Linked DNA regions of Homo sapiens: region 1 is linked to region 2. The links come from fine-mapping of genetic effects on gene expression. A gene starts in region 2. The other region holds a variant in brackets. All regions are shown on one strand. Distances are between the middles of the regions.

What was found.
Region 1: its variant is fine-mapped to the expression of SMIM17 in left ventricle (GTEx, PIP 0.98). The same link has a PIP of 0.9 or more in skeletal muscle.

Annotation. Positions count from the first base shown.
Region 1 is chr19:56,620,260-56,625,565 of GRCh38, reverse strand. ZNF71 (zinc finger protein 71) reads right to left here. Exons shown (of 4, transcript NM_001370215.1): 4 at 1,080-4,298. The coding sequence ends at 2,809. All of the region lies in intron 2 of ZNF71-SMIM17 (ZNF71-SMIM17 readthrough (NMD candidate)), which reads right to left. Among named protein-coding and RNA genes, the nearest start is that of SMIM17, 20 kb to the left of the region's middle. The variant C/A (reference allele first, on the strand shown) is at 2,677.
Region 2 is chr19:56,640,819-56,646,194 of GRCh38, reverse strand. It overlaps SMIM17 (small integral membrane protein 17), which reads right to left and starts at 3,036. Exons shown (of 4, transcript NM_001193628.2): 1 at 2,985-3,036; 2 at 359-627. The coding sequence starts at 527. It overlaps ZNF71-SMIM17 (ZNF71-SMIM17 readthrough (NMD candidate)), which reads right to left. Exons shown (of 5, transcript NR_163263.1): 3 at 359-627.

The sequences.
Region 1 (5,306 bases), 21 kb after region 2:
GGTCATTCAGACCCCACCCAGCACCCATGACCTCTACCTCAAGGCCAGGCTTGGGTCAGGCCTGGGGACACAGGGACACAGGGACACAGGGCCCAGTGAGGGTGAACTCGAAGGCCAGCACATAACCCCAAATAGTGCCTTGGACAGATGTATGGGATAGAAGACTTGTTAAAAAGCAGGTTCCTGACCTGCTTGATCCCTGCCAAACCCACATTTTCAGGGGGGTAAATTTAATTTGGCTTCAGTAAGTACCTGACTGAGGAACTGGTGGGTGGAGTGGTGCCGTGGACTGCAGTCCAGCTTCTGGAGTCAGAATGGGTTTGAATCCAGCAGCTGTGTGACCTTGGGCAGGTGCCTGAACCTCTGCGAGCCTGTTTCCCCATCTGTAGAGTGGGGGTGATGAGAGCGCCCCCTCAGAGTTGGACAAGTGACTCCGTCAATGTGGCCATTATTCCAGCCACCTCAGGGTTCCTCTTGGGGAAACGTGGAGCCCTGAGTGGGGAGCTTGCCCAGGAGGCGGGAGACCAGGGATGTGAGACCCACCTGGTACCACAGCATCCCCCCAGAGGAGCCTCAATGCCCTCCACATCAGCTTGGGTTGCAGAGAAAAGAAACAGGAGGGACCTGAGAGGTGGCCCGGCTGGTTCTCTGGATGGGAGAGGGGGATGGTGGTGGTGCAGCCTCGATCCCATCTCTGCTTCACACACTGGGGAGTCCAGGAAACCAAGGCCAGGAGTCAAGTCCTGAGAAATTCAATATGTCCATCTCTAGAAGTAGTCCAGTGTAGGCAAGGAGCACGGACCTCGGAGCCCAGGTGGACCCCAGCTCACACCCTGTCCCCTCCACTTCCATGTTGTGTGCCCTCAGGAAGCTTACCTTGCCTCACTGAACCTCAGATTCCTTATCTATACGACATGCACATGAATCCCTACCTCGAGGATCTTGTGAGGGTTAAATGAGCCATTTCATCTCTCCAAAGGGCCTTAGAAGGTCTTCCCCTCCATTTTGCTGCTAAAGAGTAGTAAAATCTTGTGTACATATTAGCTAACATTTGTTGACTGTTTTAACACTCCATTCTCTGCAGTGCATACATATTCTCATTTATTCCCACAACAGATGCAACTAAAGCAATGTCTGATCAAGACTCGCTGCTGGAAACCACCACAATCCCACGTGGGAAGCCAGCCTGAGGATGATGTTAAGAAGTATGAAGGGAGAGCCAGAGCATCACAGAGAACCACAGCTATGGCTCCAATGATGAGAGCCTGAATCAAACCCACCCTGAGGCCCACTTGACTGCCAGAATTTGAAAAACGGTCCACCTTGTTTATACGTGCCCGAGTGGCTGTTTTTCTTATTTGCAGAATGTGCTTGCTGATATAATTTTTTTTCTGTATTATTTATTTGTGTACACCAGTGTCAGGGAGTGTGGAACAACTGGAAATGCCAGAACATTAGCAACCAGTAGTATCAAATAACAAAATTAAAAGTATGGCCTAAAAGGCCCCAGAGAAAGTGCACTTTGGGGAACACTCTTATGTGTAAACAGAGCTTCAGTCGGCCTTAGGAAACTCACTCGAAGTTACTGATATGGTCTGTTGGTGCTTCCCTGTATTCACATATTGGAAACTTGATCCCCAATGTAACAGTATGAAGAGGGAGGACCTTTGGGAGGTCATGAGGTCAGGGCCCTTGTGACTGGGATTAGCACCCTTATAAGGGGCCTGAGGAAGTCTGCCGTTTACAACCACGTGAAGACACACATCAAGACACAAGCACTACCTATGAAGAACATACCCCATCAGACACCAAATCTGCCAGAGCCTTGATCTTGGACTTCCCAGCATCCAGAACCATGAGTGACAAATTTCTATTGTTTATAAATTACCCAGTCTAAGGTCTTTTGTTACAGCAGCAGGAAGGGACTTAAGACAGTTGCCTTCACATTTAGCTGCAAAAATCACTATAAAAATAATCTGTGCTCAGATGTATATACTTATTGAATCCATGCATATTTCTTTCTGAATATCAAACCTGCTGCTGTTTCTTTTCCTTCTTGCCCCTCCCACAATCACTGAAGCCGATTTTGACCAGACAACTGGCCAAAACAGAAGACTGTTTAAAATAACATAGTCTCCCTTAATTAAAAGTTTTATTTTTAAAAAACGTAACAGACCACTCTAAGAAACTTTGGCATTCAAAGCAGTAGTTACTGTTATTTGCTAACTCTGAAAAAAAAATTTTTCCCCTCACAAACAACCGGCAAACTCCTGCCACTTCCTAGCTTGGTGGCTGCCAGCGTGCACTGCAGGGAAACGGTGGGTGGAGGGATAGGAAGGCCCTCACGCTCCCAACCCACGGAGAAAATGCAGATGGTGACAAGCTGCATCTGGACTCCAGGATGTATCTGACAAAGAGGGAGATGTCTCCTCCCTCCCCTCCACCAGCTCCACTTTCCCGCTGAAGAAACAGAGATGTGGAGGCAGGCGTGACCTGTCCCAGCTCTAGGACAGTTACTCAAGAGGGCTAGTCTGGAACCCTGATGTCTGTTACCAGCGGCCATGGCTCAGCTACAGTGAACCTTGAAGTGTCCCCAGATACGTCAGACACCGAGGGGCTTGCTTTCTGAGGCTCAGTAAGGAGGGGGCATGTGTGATCAGCCAGCCCCTCCACAAC[C/A]CCACATTCCTGAGCTCCCCTGACCCCGAGTCCCCACCCCAGGGGAGAACTTCTCACAGCACTGCTGACAAAGCGCGCAGCCATCTGGCGTCCGTCCTGGGCACCGCCAGTGAGAGCCCTGCACAGAGGCGCTCAGGTGTGAATCCGCAGGTGGCGCGTCAGGTTCGTGTTGCGGCTGAAGGTCTTCCCGCACTCGCCGCATCGGTAGGGCTTCTCGCCCGTGTGGATCCGCTGGTGCACAGTGAGGGAGGAGTTCTTGATGAAGGACTTCCCGCACTGGCCGCACCTGTACGGCTTCTCGCCGGTGTGGATCCGCTGGTGCTCGATGAGGTAGGCGCTCTGGCTGAAGGCCTTGCCGCACTCGCCGCACACGTAGGGCTTCTCCCCGGTGTGCACGATCTGGTGCACGATGAGGGACGAGCGCCCCGTGAAGTGCTTCTTGCAGATGTAGCACTCGTAGGGCTTCTCGCCGGTGTGGATGCGCTGGTGCTGCGTGAGCGAGGAGTTCTTGCTGAAGGCCTTGCCGCACTCGCTGCACTCGAACGGCTTCACGCCGATGTGGAAGCGCTGGTGCTGGATGAGGTAGGAGCTCTGGCTGAAGGCCTTGCCGCACTCGCCGCACACGTAGGGCTTCTCGCCGGTGTGGTTCCTCTGGTGCAGGGTGAGCGAGGAGCTCTTGTTGAAGGCCTTGCCGCACTCCTTGCAGGCGTACGGCTTCTCCCCGGTGTGCGTGCGCTGGTGCTCGGTCAGGTGCATGTTCTGGCTGAAGGCTCGCCCGCACTCGGGGCACACGTACGGCTTCTCCCCGGTGTGCGTGCGCTGGTGCACGATGAGGTGCATGTTCTGGCTGAAGGCCTTGCCGCAGTCCCCGCACGCGTAGGGCTTCTCCCCCGTGTGGATCCGCTCGTGCTGGGTGAGAGAGGAAGTCTTCCGGAAGGCCTTGCCACACACGTCGCACACATACGGCTTCTCGCCCGTGTGCGTGCGCTGGTGCACAGTGAGGTTCATGCGCTGGCTGAAGGCCTTGCCGCAGTCCCCGCAGGCATAGGGCTTCTCGCCCGTGTGCACCCGCTGGTGGATGGTGAGGGACGAGCGCTCGATGAAGTGCTTCCCACAGGTGTCACACTCAAACGGCTTTTCTCCCGTGTGGATCCTTTGGTGCTTTATCAGGGACGAGCTTCGGCTAAAGGCCTTGCCACACTCGCTGCAGTCGTAGGTTTTCTTCTCCTCGCAGGGCATGGGGGGCTTACTGAGGTCTGAAGTGCTGGAGAAGTTCTTGCCACGCCTTACGGGTGGACAGGCCCCCTTTTCTGTGGGGTCGTCCAGCCGTGGTGGGACCAGGACACAGCCTTGGTTGGCAAATGCCTTCAGTTCATGACATGCGGGTACTGAGCCCCCTAAGAGTTTGTTCCCCTGGGGAATTCCCAATGGCTCCCACTCTGCACCTGCATCTCCCCGCGGCCTCTCTGGCCAGCTGCCTGGTTCCCACACTCCTTCTGAGCCAGGACCCCTGGCACCATTCCTCGTGGGTCCCCCCGTGGCCTCCCCAACAACGGAGAGCTTGTCTTCCGAAATGTCATTCTTTGGATCCAACTCTTTCATTTCAGGTCTAGTCTCCCAGTCTGAAAAAAACAAAAACAGAAGATGCAAATACATGTAGTTAAAGATGCTGGGAGTGAGGAAGCTCCACAGCAGGAAGGAGCAAATGAAACCGACCCCAATGAGGCCCAAGGCACAGAGCGAGTTAGCAAAGAAGAACCTTGGATCAGAGAGGGAGGGAGGAGGGAGGCATGGAACTGAGGCCAATGTGGTTTATGAAGCAGAGTCAACACAGGAGGTGAACAGGGAGAGCAAATGTCCCTTCAGAAGAGGGATGACAGGCACTCCTGGAGAGAAACTGCAGTAGTGAGCTGGGCTTGCAGGGAGCAAAGGGCAGGCTCTGCAAACCTGAGTAGGAATGACTGCAGCCGGCTACTGACTTGCAGGGCCTCCTCACTTCATCCTGCAGATCCACAACCAGTCGTGCTCCTCAAGCAACAGTTTTTATCAGAAATAATAAGATGGCCAGGCACAGTGGCTCATGCCTGTAATCCCAACACTTTGGGAGGCTGAGGCAAGGATTGCTTGAGACCAGCCTGGGCAACATAGTGAGACCCCCCACCCCCGCCTCTACTAAATTTTTTTTTAAAAATTAGCCAGGCATGGTGGCACATGCCTATTGTCCCAGCTACTTGAGAGGCTGAGGTGGGAGGATCACTTGAGCCCAGGAATTCGAGGTTGCAGTGAGCTATGATCACGTCACTGCACTCCAGCATGGGTGACAGGGTGAGACCCTGTCTCTTAAAAAATAAATAAATAAATAAATATTGAAAAAAGAAGAAAAAGAATAAAGAAATAATAAATAGCTAGCATTTATATGGCATGTGTTGGTTATTCTCTACTCCTTCGACCCACTTTCTATTCTCCACCCTTCTCTGACCTGCCCTGTGCTCAGGATGCTGACTTTGCCCACTGGCTTCCTGTGTGTTTGGCCAAAGGCAGGAAACTGGAAGTGAAATGAGAGAAAAATCGGGCATTTCTCCTGCCCCTTTGCCACTTCTCTGGTATGGCTGCCCCAGGGTTGCTGGCTG
Region 2 (5,376 bases):
CTCAGCACCACCAAGCCAGCCAACAGCCAGCACCAGCAGACATGGGGGTAAAGCCATCTGAGATCGACCAGTGGCCTCACCAGCTCTCTGAGGCTGCACAGACAAGCACAGGCAGGAAAAGTGTCCCCTGAAGCCAGGTCAAACTTCTGACCCACAGAATCATGAGCTGATAAGTGATTGTTGCTTTAAGCCCCTAAGTTTGGGGATGACTTGTTACACAGCAAAAGCTGACTGACACAGTGCTCCATGAATAGCTGTTGAATGGATGAGTGAAGGAGTGAATGTTTAGTCTTTCCCTAGGCTCTGCCAATTCCTTCCTCTCCACCCACTCACCTCCCAAAGGACCCCTGCCTCTCACCTTTCTCATCACTGTCATGGCTGGAGGCCCCAACCTCCACAGCCTCCCAGTCTTTGGTGCAGGCGGGATGAGGAGGCTTCTCCCAGGCCCGGCTCTCCCGAGGCAGCAGAGTCTTGGTCCTCTCAGGCTCCAGCAGCCCCCGTGTCTGCTCAGGCCTGAGACTCTGCATTGCCCCAGGAGGAGGTGGAGCTTCTGAGACAAGCTTCTCTTTCTCCTCCTGCTCCAGGGTCCTCTCTGGTTCTCCAGGCACAAGATTCAGAACCTGAGGACTGATGGACATTTCATCATTCAGTGAATCATTACAGAGGGCCAGCAGGGGCTAGGCACGACTGTAAGCATTAGAAATACAGCAGTAATCAAGTGGAGATTCCTGCCCTCCTGGGGCTTACATTCTAGTAGGGAGACAAAGAGACAGGCAGGGAACAAATAAAGCACACAGCAGGTCAAACGCTAGAGGGTGCTCTGGAGACAAAGCTGGAAAGGGAGTGATTGTCATGGGCAGGCACATGCAGACACACACACTCACATACTCCCATATACACACATACAAACATAAACACATCCACACATACACACACACAGACACACAGTCACATACACACACACTAACACAAACACAAACACACACACATCCACATTCACACACACTCACATAGACTAACACACACACTCATACACACTCACAGTCACACACACTCACATTCATACTCACACACATACACACTCACATACTCATATACACACCTACAGCCACACATGATTCTCCAGTCTGCACATTTGTATATAACAAATGGGATAGGAAACGACATGAATTAATAAATAAATCAGCCAGGCGAGGTGGCTCACACCTGTAATCCTAGCACTTTGGGAGACCAAGGTGGGAGGGTTGCTTGAGCCCAGGAGTTTAAAAATTAGCCAGGTGTGGTGTCACGAGCCTGTAGTCTCAGATATTGGAAGGATCCTTTGAACCTGGGAGTTCAAGGCTTCAGTGAGCTAGGATCGTGCCACTGCACTCCAGCCTGGGTAAGAGAGAAAGACTCTCTCAAAAATCAATCAATGAGTCAATCAAGAGGACTCTTTTACTGTCACTTTTCTACAAATGAAAATTAAATATAGGTCCAGAGAAATACTTCTCTATTGTAAGGAGCACATGAACAAATGGCAGTGGATATATGGCATGGGGAGAGACGACGGAGGCAGTGGGGAGTGGGGCAAGAGAGATCAGGTCTCCTGTCTGAAGAAGCTGCACCATGCAACTCAGCTAATGTCTGCAGAGCAAACGCATGGGACTGGTGTCGCCCATCCTGTGATTTCTCAAAAGAAGACTGGAAATCTATATTTTCAGATGGCATTTTCTACATTTCATGATGTCAATAATTATTTCCAGTGTTTAACAGGAAGACACCTTTAGTCAAATAGCACAAGTTGTGGGGCTGAATTAGACCCTGGGGTTGCCCATTTGCAACCTCAGTGTGGGCCGGGGAGTCTGTTGGGAGTGAGGAGAGGAGGCTGCCTAGACATTTTTCAGGGCAAGAAAATTCCTATGGGACCTTCGTGGGAAAGAGTGTTAGAGAGTACCATTAGGGAGTTCTGATTTGTTTATTGCTTTGGGGTTTTGCTTGGCTTTGTTTTTAATATGAGACATAATTAATCATGGATCTAGGTTGAGGGGAGGGGAAGGCATGAGAAAGGAGAAAATGCAGGCAAGCGGGGTGACAGATGGGAAAGACGACAGCCATCAGGTCAAGGTCAGGAGAAGCTGGATCCGCAGTGAATGGAGGAGGAAGAAGGAAAGGGGATGAGACAGAGGTATGGTGGGGGGAGGAGATTCACACCCCACAGCCTCAGTGTTCATGGTGAAATAGCAAACAAGTCATCCCCTGAGAGAATGGAGACGCAGTCACAACAACGACAACCAGCAACCACAGTAAAAGCAATAAAAATACCGGCAGTGTTTCCCGGAGCCCAGAACTCTCCTTGTGCCCAGCCCTGCTGAGCCCTGCGAATCCCTTTTCTCACATAAAGGTGGCCATACTTCTCGCTACAGATACTATTAGGTTTCCATTTAACAGACAGGGAAGTCCCCTGATCAAAGCCACACAGCTCAGAAGAGTGGGGGCGGGGCTGCTGCACCTGTTTGCTGAGAGCCTGCGCTCCCACCGTTGCAGGGTGGTCCACAGGGGCCCAGGCGGACACACAACGCGAACACGCACAGGTGCACACTCGGGCAGGTGCGCTGAACACCCCAGGGGGAGCGAACATCGACACCAAGCCCCAGCGAGACGAGCGCACGTGCCCGTGCCGCCCCACGAGGGTACACAGGTCTGTGCTCCCCTCCTCACGAGGAGGCTGGAATTCACCTGCAACCCCCAAGCCAGGACACAGACCTCCGCTGCGGAGAAACAGACCCGACCCCGACAGACCCCGGTCCTCTCCCACCGGACGGGCTTGGAGACGCCCTCTCCCCGGACCCTATCCCTGGAGCGGTTCTGCCCCTCACCCTCGCCCAGGCACACACACCCTCTGCGCATCCATACTCGCGCGCGCATCCCCGGATCGCCGCCCGCGCCCCCAGCCCCTTTTCTCCGCCTCCTTCCCGCCCGCGGGGGTCCCTCGAAGGACTCACCCTCCCCAACCGGACCCTGTCTGGGCTCTGCAGAGCTGGCGCCGCACTGACTGCGGCTGCGCAGACGCGGAGGCTGCGGGGGGGTGGGGGGAGGTGGGAGATGGGAGGTGGGGGAATTGGGGAGCGTGGGTGTCCTCCTCCCCTCCTCCACCCCCGGGAAGCCTGCACCTGGAGGCGCGTGGGGAAGGGAGTGGATGAGCCGCAGAGGCGGGGTACCCGCGGCGTGGTTGCAGGGGGGTGTGGTACCGAGCTGGTCCATCTCTAGCTGATGAGCACGTAGGTTATGTTCGAGGTACCCTGCGACAGACGCCCCAAGGCCAGCGGCTTTGCGTACGCCCCCCGTGGTTCTCCAGTCTGCAAACCGGGAGTCCGGGGTGGGCGGAAGGGAGAAGGAGCTGGGGCAGGGGGTGGCAGCCCGGGGACCCTGAGGCCCGACCGCCTGGGGCAGCGGCTGGCTTTGCCATTTGTTACTAGTGAGTCCTCGGGTGTGTTACTTAACATTTCCGTGCCTCGGTTGCCCATGCTGTTAAGTGGGAATAATTATGGTTACCAAGTCCCAGGATTTCTGTGAAAGTAAAACAATAATAACAATAATAAGTAATACACGTACAGTTCTTACAACAGTGCCTAATAGCTGCTATTATTATCAATGACCATTGTTGTTCAAATTTACAATGCAGTGACTACAGCCAAGTTGCTCTCATGGAGGCTACATTAAATTTTTAAAATTTTCGGCAAAGCCATAGGTAGGGGGAAAACGGCGTCCCTGCATCATCTTAGCTACATTTCCCTGATTACTAGTGAGGAGAATTAAACACATGTATTTGAACAGGCTTATTCTCTCTTCTGTGAATTACCCGTTTATCTCCTCCTCTCCGCATTGTTCTATTTGTTTATGTAGCTTTTACTTACTGATTAATAGACATTCTTTCTATATTCTGCACATTAATCCTTTGCCTGTTACTCTATCTGTGGCAAATATTTTCTCCTGGCTCCTCCCTTATGTTTTTATTGTGTTTACACAGTGCCTGAAGTTTTGAATTTTAATAAAAATACAAGATATCCTTTTTATTTATTTATTTATTTTTTGCTTTTAGGGTCTTAAGATGCCCTTCCTCAGCCTTGTCTCTCCCTCTCTTCCCCGCCCCTCCTCCCCCTCCTTGTCTCTTTGAGACAAGGTCTTACTCTGTCACCCAGGCTGGAGTGCAGTAGTGTGATCATAGCTCACAGCAGCCTTGAACTCCTGGCCTCAAGTGATGCTCTTGCCTCAGCCTCTTGAGTAGCTGGGACTGCAGGCATGTGCCACCACACCTGGCTAATTTTTAAATTTTTTGTAGAAACAGGGTCTCACTATGTTGCCCAGGCTGGTCTCAAACTCCTGGCCTCAACTGATCTTCCCAGCTCAGCCTTCCAAAGTGCTAGGATTACAGGCATGAATCACTTCTCCTGGCCTCCCCTTACTCTCATAAACACATTTTCCTGTATAATCTTATATTTTACAGTCTTATTTTATATATTTATTTTGTTTGAACCTTCTGGAATTTTTTTGAATGGTATGAGGTAAGGATTTAACCTCCTTTCCCTAATGGATAGAAAATTGAATTACCCTGGTTATTCAGAAAAACAAAAATAACTGTCATTTATCAAAAAAATACTACAAGGAAAGCCATCTCGTTAATATTATCTCATTTAATTCCAACAGCCCAAAGTGGTAGTATTATTATCCCCATTTAACAGAGAAGAGAACTGAGGCACAAAGGAGTTAAATGAGTTGTACAAAGGACACACAGTAAGATTATGGAAGGACTGAGATTGGGTTTGCCTACGAGTTTTCAGATAGGTTATGTAATTGGGATGGGAAACTTTCTTCATTTCTATGTTTAGAAGATGAGTTTCCTGCCATTCCAAAGATAGTTCAGAGTGTGCAGAGAAGAGAGATGAAGTGTCAAGAATTAGACATTTCATCCAATCCTCATCACCTCCTTTGATAACAAGACATTTAGTGCAGGAGACCAGGTGAGCTGCCCCAGGTCACAGAGTCTTGAGAGGGTTAGGAACTGGGCATCCAGATGCAGATCTAACAATGTACTAGCTGTATAACTTTGGGAAGTGAATTAACTCGGTCTCAGTTTCCTTACCTGCAAAATGGGGACAATAATATTTTCTACCTCATAGGGTTAGTGTGAACATCATATAGGTTAATACATATGCCTCCTAATTTTGAGTGCTCAGTAAATGTCACTGGTATTATCATTATAATTATTGAACAGCAGGTCCTCAATATGGGGTAAAAATCTCCAGTTATGATCCTGATAGTCCAGATGAATTATGGTTGTTTCAAAATGGACTCAAGTTTGAGGGGCTTCCCCAGAATTCTGAGGGAACAAATTTT